Linked DNA regions of Homo sapiens: region 1 is linked to region 2. The links come from fine-mapping of genetic effects on gene expression. Tissue or cell type: whole blood. Region 2 holds a variant in brackets; the other region holds the start of a gene. All regions are shown on one strand. Distances are between the middles of the regions.

Evidence for each region. PIP is the estimated chance that this variant, and not a neighbour inherited with it, causes the effect.
Region 1: CPA5 starts here. The variant in region 2 is the best candidate, but not a certain one, in a credible set for the expression of CPA5 in whole blood (TOPMed, PIP 0.76).

The regions. Positions count from the first base shown.
Region 1 is chr7:130,341,039-130,346,797 of GRCh38, reverse strand. It overlaps CPA5 (carboxypeptidase A5), which reads right to left and starts at 1,982. Exons shown (of 13, transcript NM_080385.5): 1 at 1,593-1,982; 2 at 902-959; 3 at 197-405. The coding sequence starts at 312. The region is part of intron 1 of LOC105375503 (a long non-coding RNA gene); the gene reads left to right. LOC124901837 (small nucleolar RNA U13) reads right to left here and starts at 2,383; the gene lies at 2,280-2,383. RefSeq lists an enhancer at 1-790.
Region 2 is chr7:130,362,483-130,367,482 of GRCh38, reverse strand. CPA5 (carboxypeptidase A5) reads right to left here. Exons shown (of 13, transcript NM_080385.5): 8 at 4,944-5,000; 9 at 4,489-4,599; 10 at 3,974-4,064; 11 at 1-111. LOC105375504 (a long non-coding RNA gene) reads left to right here and starts at 356. Exons shown (of 2, transcript NR_133928.1): 1 at 356-653; 2 at 1,614-1,833. RefSeq lists a silencer at 1,376-1,425 and an enhancer at 1,496-1,997. The variant C/T (reference allele first, on the strand shown) is at 2,504.

The sequences.
Region 1 (5,759 bases), 21 kb after region 2:
TTGGGGAGGACCACCAACGAGCCAGCCCCGGAGCATGAAAGTGGGAGGCTGTGGAGCTGGAAGTGGGTTCAGGACAGGAACCCACATCCTGACTCTCCGCCTTGATCAGGCACCAGCAGGGCAGCCACCTCCTGCTGGGACACCCAGTCCCCTCCTCCCAGCCAGTCCTCCCTCCCACTGTGGAGCAGCCACTCACCCTGTGAAATTCATTTGGCCCAAAGCTGCTGCCAGGATAAAGCTGAAGACCAGGAGTGTCCGCCTGTCCACGGGGGATGGCCCAGGGCGCGTCCCGCCTCCAGGGGTGCCCTGCATGCTTCTTCCTCCTGGTGAGCTTCAGGGGCTTTCCTTGGGCACCATGGCCCAGGCCTCAGGACAGCACAGCACCTAGAGGCTGGAAAGCCCAGCCTGAGAAAGAGCATTAGGCTGTCTGGGGCACCCAGCATGTGGCTCCCACATGCCAGGCCTTGGGAGAGCTAGGGCTGCCCCTCCCCAACCCAGCACATCCTCTCCTGGGAAGGGGAGAGGGAAGAGAGAAGGAGGAAGACAGGCCTTAGCTTTTCTTTTCTCTCAGGAGGTTTGCCAGGGCAGCCCCTTGTGAGCATCAAAGCTTCCATCTCTGGAGAAAGACCAAAGTAGCCAGCAGCCCTGGGATACCCCTCCTTTCCTCCCTCCTCTACAGCATCTTCTCTTTCGCTCTTCTTCTCCGCCTAGCCCACTCATGCTTTCCCTGGGCCATATCCTCCTTACACATAAGGTGTGGATGCCATTGAAACACCGCTGGACTTAGAGACAGAGACTGGGTGCTCACTTCCCGTCTAAAATATCTGGGGCAGCTGCCCTAATCTCTAAATCTCAGTTTACTCATCCATCAAATGGGGTTAATCATACCTCCCCTCCCTACCTCACAGGGTTTGAAGGGGTATAGATGAGACAACTTGAGTGAATTGGCTTGGTAAAGCCTGCAAAATGCAATGTATTATTATTCAAAAGGCATTAACTTTTAGTCACAGCTGCATTTGAGATCAGTCCTCCAGTGGCGATGGGGAGAAGGGGAAGAGAAGAGAATGGAGAGGAGAACAAAGGAAATAACTATATATTGTATGAGAAGGAATTCAATCAAGATTCCCTTTTCTCTGTCTTCAGGTGGTCATCATTGTGCTAGCACAGACAGTGGGTTTTCTGCTAGACATGAAGGTCACCGCAGTCATTATTAGAGTTCTCAACAGACAGCAGAGTCAATTTCTCAGTCCTGCTGAAGCCCCACACAGTTCCCTTTATAGTTTGGGAATAGCAGGAGTAAAGCAGGGGCCAGCACACAAAGCAGTCATGTTGGAAGGAGAAAGTGAAAGATGATGCCTGAATGGCAAATGATGAATCTAACAGAAAATCCACAGGGGGTGGGGGTAAGGCAGAAGCTGAATCCAACCAAGTCGTTCAGCAGAGGACGTCAACAATAGGCCACTTAACTGTCACTGGCGATTCTCAGAAGCTCCCCCTCCCCATCCAAACTATCTCAGAATGGCCGATTAACTGGCTATGTGTGCAAAGAAGGGAGCTCGTTTATCGACAGAACGCCCTGCTCCCCCACCCACCTGCCCTACTCCATTATTTCGTAGTTCAGCTGTTCAGACAAGCCAGACTCTTCTAGTATCCTGGCTTCAGGGACTCTCAAACAGTAACATTATCAAAGGGTTTAAGGACATAGAAAAGAAAGCAGTTATGCTTTCCACCCAAGTAACATTCAGCTTCAGTAGCAATGGAGATAAAAGGGTGTACTGCTAAACAATAGCTCAGGAATTTAAAAGGAAAAAAACAGAGATAGTGCTAGTCACCAAAAGTACCCATGGGGCGTCTTCTTGTTCAAAAACATCATTTTAAGCCACCAATGATGAGACAACTATCCCTGTACTTGGCTTAAGGGTGGGAAAAGAGAGAGAGTGAGAGAGAAAGAATAAGAGTAAAAGAGAGAGAGAGAAGCAGTTAGGAAGTTTTGAGAATTCTATGACATAGCTTCCAATAGAACTTTCTGTGATAATGGAAATATTCTATGTCCACACCCCCCAGTAGGATAGCCACTAACCTCTTGAAATGTGGCTATTGTGGTTGAATATTGATTTTGGAGTTGTATTTAACTTTAATTAATTTAAATAAAATTTAAATAGCCACATGTGGCTAATGGCTACCATATTGGACAGCAGAGTTCTCTGGGAATTCACCAACCCTGAAAGCACCATCTCCAATGGCTGGATTTGTTTTTGGTTTTGCTTCTTCTAAGTTCATGTTAGACGGGTAATGTGCTGACGTCATAACAAGGTTTGAGGGTGACACATCTCACACACGCATGCGTGAGCACCCAATTATCATACTTATGAACTGCAATTATCAGCTTATGGCTGGATTTGAAGCGGAGACACATAGCTATGCTTGACCTAATACCTCATTTTGGCTTTTCACTTATAATTAATTACTCACCTAATCATTTACTCAGTAAATGTCCTCTGAATACCTGCTATGTTCCAGGCACTTGCTAAAGTCTGGAAACAAAATAGAAAGCAACACATATCTGGCCCTTACATTTCTAAAGGCGTAAGTAGAAAATTAATTTAAATAGCATGAAGATAATTGGTAAACCCAAGACATAATGGTAGCCCATCTCACTCCAGATAAGTGTAAAACTATAGATGGTGTTTGTGTTACAAGGGAAAGGCACATTGTACCATGAGGACGGGGAACATGGGCTCCACATAGACTGAAGGAGAGTTTCCCTAAATTAGAAATTTTTTTGGAGGACTTTTATTTCCTGCAGGTGGGGTGGGTTAGATACCTAAGCAATCTTGCCCAAATGAAAGAACTCAAATGCAGAAGAAAATATTTTTAGTAACAACTTTCTAAAGCCATTGCTGGGTTGGCACAAAAATAAGAATCTATAGATCCCAAAAAGAAGGAAAAGCCAGACAGACACCCAAGTGGTAAGCAAGTTTTGCCTCAGAGAACTTCTCAGAATGCTGGTGTTCTTGATTTTCCTACTGGATGCATGTACCATGTATCTAGAATCATCTTCCCTCTGCTTCAAATCTATCTTTTCAAACCTTCCTTTAGTTAAGGTTTCTGTTTTTACTTATTTGAAAATTTTTGGCCAGGTATGGCAGCTCACATCTGTAATCCCAGTGCTTTGGGAGGCCAAGGCAGGAGGAGCCCAGGAGTTCGCTTGAGCCCAGGAGTCCGAGACCAGCCTGGGCAAGTCAGGGAGACCCTATCTCTGCAAAAATAAAATAAAATTAGCTGGGCATGGTGAGGCACGCATCTGTAGTCCTAGCTACTCGGGAAGCAAGCAAGCAGATCAACTGAGCCCAGGACTTTGAGGCTGCAGAGAACCATACTCCAGCCTGGGTGACAGAACAAAAACCTATCTCAAAAAAAAAAAAAAGAAAAAAAGAAAAAGAAAAGAAATAAGGAAGGGAGGGAGGGAGGAAGAGAGGGAGGGAGGGAGAGAGGGAGGGAGCGAGGAAGGAAGGAAGGAAGGAAGGACAGACAGAAAAAAAAAGAAAGGAGAGAGGGAAAGAGAAAGAAAGGAAAAAAAAGAATAAAGAAAGAAGAAAGAAAAAAGAGAAAGAAAGAAAGAAAGAAAGAGAAGAAAGAAGGAAAGAAAAAGAAAGAAAAGAAGAAAGAAGAAGGAAGGAAGGAAGAAAGAAAGAAAGAAGAAGAAAGAAAGAAAGAAAGAGAAAAAGAAAGAAAGAAAGAAAGAATTATTTTGCTCTCATTCTTGAAAGGGTTTTTTGGGATAGAAATTCCAAGTTGATTACTGTTTTCCTCTCAACACATTGAAAATATTATCCCACAGTCTTCTGGCTTCCATTTTTGCTGCTAAAAGGTAATGTTTGTTGACTTACTGTTCTTCAGAAGGTGACCTCTCTTTGTTCCTGGTTTCTTTGAAGAGCTTCTCTTTGCTTTTGATGTTCCACAGTTTTATCATCGTAAGTCCAGGTATGGATTTTTTTTGTTTTGTCTTGCTTGAGAATCATTTGAATTCCTGTATCTGAGTGTCACTCGCTTTCTATTATTTTCCAAATTTCTCAGCCATTATATTTTTAAACATTGCCCCTTTTCCTCTCTATTACCTTCATCTGGAACTTTTGACTGGACCTCCTCATTCTAGCCCCCAAGACTCATAAGCATTCTGCTATATTTCCATTGTGTGGTCTCTCTGGGCTACATTCTGGATAATTTATTAGTAAAAAATATTTTTGTCTTTATTCCAGTTACCTGATTCTTCATTGGCTGAGTTTAATCTGCAATTTAATTGATCTGTGAAGTTTTACCTTTCAATTGCTACGGTTCATTGATTCTGCAACCTATTTTTTTCACATTTTTAACACTGCTAAAATCAGGATACATCTTACAATTGGTGGCATCTTGCAATGCTAAGGTGGCACATAAAATTATGGTGCATCTTATAAAATTGATCCTGTTTTATAGTCAATGCAATATGATATTCATTTTTCATTTTTGGAAGTTCTATTTGATTCTTTTTTTCTGATTCAAGCCCAAATGACTTGAATTTCTTATCTATTTTAGAATTTCTTATTTCTTTAAACGTATAAGACAGATATTTTATATTCTGTGTTAGATAATTACAATTCCTAGATGTTTTAAGTCTGTTTCTGCTGCCTATTCTTTCCGCTGGTTCTCACTCATGGTGCATTTTCTCTCATGCCACATACCTGTGAACCAATCATTTTCCTTGAACATTTATCTGTGAGAATCCCTTGAGGCCTGGGTTGAAGGTGGGTTCTTCCAGAAAAGATTTGCGTTTACTTCTGTAAGTTGCTGGGGACACTACCAACCTGCGACCACTCTAAATTAAATAATTTAAGATTTTTTTGGGGGACTGCATAGTTAGCATAAACTTAAACCACAAATTCATGTCGGGGGCTTACTTGTGGTTATGAAATCTCAGGAAATATTTTCCCCGGCATCATCTAACACCAAAGTTTTAAGTCCTGGACAAGAATAGCATGTTATCTGCAAGTGGGTCATCAGAGTTAAAGTGTCTTTAAGGTCCTGGAATTATTGGGAGAAAGGAGAGATATTGATAATTTTTTAGATTTTGGTAAATATGCGTGTTCAAATAGCTAGAGCAACAACTAGAAGAATAGGCCCAGTGCACATAACTTTCAAACTCCACTAAAAATACAAAAATTAGCTGGGCATGGTGGTGGGAGTCATCCCAGCTACTCGGGAGGCTGAGGTGGGAGAATTGCTTGAACCCAGGAGGCGGGGGTTGCAGTGAGCCAAGATCATGCCACGGCACTCCAATCTGGGCGACAGAGCAAGACTGTCTCAAAAAAAAAAAGAAAAAAATACTAGCTATATGGTTTCACAAGAGGCACTCTTAAAACATAAGAAGAAAGAGAGACTCAAAGTCAAGGATGGAAAAAAGATATTCCAAGTAAATACTAATAAAAGAAAGCATATAGCCACGTGCAGTGTCTCGTGCCTGTAATCCCAACAATTTGGGAGGCCAAGGAGGGACGATCACTTGAGGACAGCAGTTCAAGACCAGCCCAGGCAACATAGGGAGACCCTGTCCCTACAAAAAAATAGAAATAAGTTAGCCAGGCATGGTGGCATGCACCTGTGGTCTCAGCTACTTGGGACACCCCTTCTTAAAAAAAAAATCAGGAATAATTCTAACAAGCAATGTGCAATCCTCCCTGTTCTGAAGTAAGCAGGTATATGCAAACCTGCCCCCAAAGTCT
Region 2 (5,000 bases):
TGAAGTTGCCATGGGCTGTGATGAAGTTCACTATGGCAGCCACCTCCGGCTCCGACTGAGGGGAGGGCCCGTGATAAGTTTCTGAGCAGGGGTTGCTGTTAGAACCATTTCCTGGAAGTAAAATAAAGCCACCCAAAGAGTCAAATCCCCACGTGCGACACAGACGGTGCTCACAAAATACCTGTGTGTTCCCCTACATTTCCCAGCCTCCTTTGCAGTATGACTGAGGTCATGTGACTACTTTGACCAATGGAAAGGTGAGCAGAAATGACACGGCACTTCTGGGTTGAGATTGTTAAGAGCAAGTGTGACTTCTCCATGCTCTTTTCTGTCTGTGTGGCTGGAAGCAAAAAAAAAAAATTCTAGATAGAAACAGCCTCCTGGATCCCTCTCTCACTGCGGAAGAAAGCCGCCAAGGAGAGTCACCTGTTCATGTTGGACTTTGTGTGCATGAAAAACAAACTTTCATTGTGTTAAACCACTGAGATTGGGATGGATATTTGTTACTGCTGCATCCTCTAATCTAATATGTCAGAGGACTGCAGCCGCACCATACCCTGCAGTTCTGAAGCCCTGCAGGGAGCCCCCTCGGCTTGTCCTGTGGTCCCTTTAGGAAGGTGGGCCTGGCTCAGAAGTTGCATCCAGAGGAAACTGTAAGTCTCTGCCCCAACCCTGGCTTCCCCTAGTGAGCAGCAAATGCCTTTAGGCTGACCGTTCCTGGGTGTGCCATCAGTTGAGGGCTCAGACTCGGTGTCAGCTGAAGCTTTGCCACAGCCATGGCCCCAGGTGCGCCATGAACTTGGGGTCTGGGGATATGGGAAACCAATACGGGAGAATAGTTCCCCATAGTTGCCTGAGGCTGTTCTGGGAGCCAGAGGTGCAAAGAAGTCTTTGAAAATTCTTCTTGGGGACTTAAGATGAGGGAGAGAACAAAGAGGAGCAGGGCTTTTATTCTTTTCCCAAGTTTCATTTGTTTCCATTTCCCCCTGGACTCTTTGCCTTCGCCCCATCTCTGTCTTCCTCTTCTGCTCCTCCTCTGCTTTTCCCTTATTCCTGAGGGGAGGGTTGGGCTGTGCTGAGCTGGTCAAGACTTTGTAGGCTAAGGACACACTTGGAAGGAGTCATCCCAGTTTCTCCTCTCTCTCCTCTTCCCTGGAATGTTGGCACCGTCCAGAGATCAGGGATCGCCTCAACTTCTGAAGTCTCCTGAGGAGGCCACAGCATTCCTCTTGACTCCTGGGGCTGGGGGCTGGCCCATGGACCACTTCAGATGATGCTCTAGGAATGCAGCACACAGGTCCTCCCCAAGAATGCACAGGAGGCCAGGCACGGGTGGGAGGGATGGTCTACAGGTTACTCATTACACAGCCATTCAATTAAGGCAATAACAAAACCATAAACAAAATCATCCAGCCTGAGTCACCAACCCAGACACACACTCTTGCTGGCCCCAGGGAGGCCCAGGGAGCGCGCCCCTTCTCGGTTTGGTGGTCCTCACCTGGGATGGGGACCCTGGTTAGAAGGGGATGTGCCGGCAGAGCTAGGGGGTGAAAGGCAGCCCCCAGGCTGGAATCAGCCCATCTAACAGTGGCCTTGTTTGTTATGTCTGCCAGGAGCTCCTGCACCTGCTCCACTTGATGAATGACAAACAGCAACAGATGCGCAGAGCGGGGGGAGGTTGAAGGCTTTGTCTGCCTTTGCGGCCCACGCACAGAAAGCGGTTCCCCTGCCAACGACCAGGTGGCTTTGCCCAAATATGGAGAAACACTTTAGGCCATTAGTTCTGGTTTGAGCTAAGCAGAATAAACTAATCTTCCCCTGGCCAAATGGGAATTGGCTGCCTGCATCTCTGACGTTCACAGTCAAGGTCCTCTGAGTCCGCCTGTTTCACAAGTACCTGCTAATGGATTCATTAGCTATTTATTTTTCCTTCTCTAAAAATGTAATTTGTAGCAAGGGGAAATCTCTGGAAGGACATGGTAAATTATTAAAAGCAGTGATCTTTGAGTGGTGGGATTATGGGAGCTTTTTGCCCCCTCTGGGCTTTTTTCCATAATTGTTTTGTACACTGTGTGTATATGGATATTTTTTTTCCTGTGGTGAGACCCACAGAAGTTATTTTCTTTAAGAGGTAATTTATCTTTCTACTAGCCAGCCTATCTTGGGATCCATGGGTACTCACTCCAGTCAGTGCTGAGGGGCCACATGGATGCCCCCCCTGAGGCAAGCGTCTGTTCATTTGGAGGTGGAAATGCCTAATTTTGCATGGTCTTGTTCCATTACACAAGCAGTTACAACCCCCACGCTAGGGCCAGGGACCTCACTCTCAGTGCTTTGGGGCCATCCTTATTTTTCAGTGAGAACAGACCCCAAGAAGCCAGATTTTAAAAGCAATGGGCATCCAGATCTAAAATGTTCTATCTCATTGGTTGGGACACCAGCCTATAGGTCTGATTATCAACAGCAATGACACCGTCCCCTGTGGAGCCAAACCCTGAGCCCC[C/T]GGTGAAGTGCAGATGCCATGTCTGGGGGCCGAGGGCTGTGTCTGTTCTGGAATCTCTGTCATGACTGGACCCATCAAATTGTCCTGCCCATCAAATTGCTGTATTTCCAGGGTCCATGGACCTGTCTCTGAGCTTTCTGGAGGCCTCAATTTCCCAATCCCTGTGCCCCTTGCATGGTTAGGGAGATAATCAGGGAAGAACACCAAGGAACTCAGGAGAAAGCTGCCCCCTCCCCCTCACTGGGATCAGCCAGCTCTGCAGGTATGCACCAGGGTCATAAAGTAATGGGTCAAAAATAAAAATCAGGCTCAAGCCAGCCTTGTTGATAAAGAATTGGCTCAAGGCCAGGTGTGGTGGCTTATGCCTGTAATCCCAGCACTTTGGGTGGCCGAGGCGGCTGATTGACTTGAGCCCAAAAGTTCAAGATCAGCTGAGGGAACATGGTGAAACCACGTCTCTACAAAATTTTTTAAAAATACAAAAATTGGCTGGGCGCAGTGGCTCATGCCTGTAATTCCAGCATTTTGGGAGGCCGAGGTGAGTGGATCACCTGAAGTCAGGAGTTTGAGACCAGCCTGACCAATATGGGGAAATTCCATCTCTACTAAAAATACAAAAATTAGCCCAGCGTGGTGGTGGGCACCTGCAATCCCAGCTACTCAGGAGGCTGAGACAGGAGAATCATTTGAACCCAGGAGGCAGACATTGCAGTGAGCCAAGATCACGCCACTGCACTCCAGCCTGGGCAATGGAGCAAGACTCAGTCTCAAAACAAAAACAAAAATTAGCTGGGTGTGGTGGTGTGCACCTATGGTCCCGGCTACTTGGGAGGCTGAGGTGGGAGGATCACCTGAGCCCAGGAGGTCAAGGCTGCAGTGAGCCATGATCACACCACTGCACTCCAGCCTGGGTGACAGAGTGAGACCTTGTCTCAAAAAAAAGAAAACAAGAAAAAAAAGTGGTTAATTCTATTGGACACTTGAAACTATTGCCCTGGCCTCCCCAGAGGGCAGATTTCAGGTCCTAGCTCTCGGGGAAAGAGTTCAGAGGCATTTCTTCATGTTGTGCTCCCTTCAGGGCAGGGCTAGGGATATTTTAGGAGCACCATAAACTCTGGATTTTGAACAACAAGCAAGGCTACTTTGTACCTCCTTTAAGTCTTTCTCTGTCATATTTAGGATTTGACTCATGCAGTTAGTCCTCATTTCAGGAGCTGGGGCTCCCCTAACTGTTTCCCGTGAAGGTTTGGCACATGTGTACACTCAACACACACACACACAACCTCTCCCGTACCCACAGCCAGTCTGAGGTATGTGCTTGCCTGTCCCTGGCCGTGACTCATGCATATTAGCTGACTACATTGTCCCATGCCTCCCAAGTTGAGTCAACATAATCTGACTGAGTGGGAGAACCTGCCATGGGCCAACACCTCTTCTCCAACCCTGCCCCAGGACAGCAGGTTGCCATACCTCCAAAACCCGACTTCCAGTTCCTGTTGAGATCCACGCCGATGCAGAAGATTCCAGGTCTGATGGACTTGTTCTTCCGCCATAAGCGGTTCTGGGAAAGCCCAGGACAGGTGACCTCATTCACTGGGCCCATTCCCAGGGATGGGAGCCTCTGATATCCTGGCCTATGGGGGTAGGGGACCCTAGTGGGGCAGGGAGGAGCAAAGGGAAGGAATTGCCAGGACAGGATGGGGCTGGCATGGGGCTGGGCCAAAGATGCAGCTCAGATACTGTGCAGTTGAAGTCAGGGTCTAGGGAGAGGCCTGGGCACAGGCTGCCAATAGAGGCCTTCCCTGGGCAGCAAGAAAGAGGTCAGAGGGCAAGAGGCTGCAGGTGCAGTACCTGAGCAGCCCTCCTGCCCTTGGTGAGGGCTTCTGCAAAGAGGCTCTGAAGGGGCTGGTTCCCAAAGCACAGTGACCTTTTCTCCATCCCCCTAGAGCTGACCCCCTCCTTCCATCCTTCCCAGGTTCCCTCACCATGCTGTGGGTAAAAGCAAACCCATCAGGGTTTGTGACGAGCTCTATGAAGATGTCCATGGCATTCAGTATGTCTGTCAGGACACGGTCTTTGCCATAATCACTGACAATCTGCAAGAAAGAGTGAGGAGGGATGGGAGGCCCTACTGGGTCTCCTGGGAGGTGGCACAGGACATTTTCACAGCCAGTGGCTGCAGGAAGGGATGGCATGAAACCCCTGAGGTATATCTTTTATGCAGAACCAAAGGCTTGGATTTTAAACAACTAGAAGGCAGGGGATCAATGTGGGCTCCGTGCTGCAAAAGGTAAGAGTGCACGGTGGCTGCTCCAAAGGGCGGGATGGAGACAGCACCCTGAGTGTAACTGTTGAACTGAAGGTGCCCTTAAATAGTAAGTTCCTGCCCCCAGTTGCAGCCCCCATCGTGGGTGCACCTTGGCTACAGGTCCATGCTGACCTTATTGGCAGTCCAGATGCCGGTGGCATGGGTGATCCACTCCCGGGAGTGAATTCC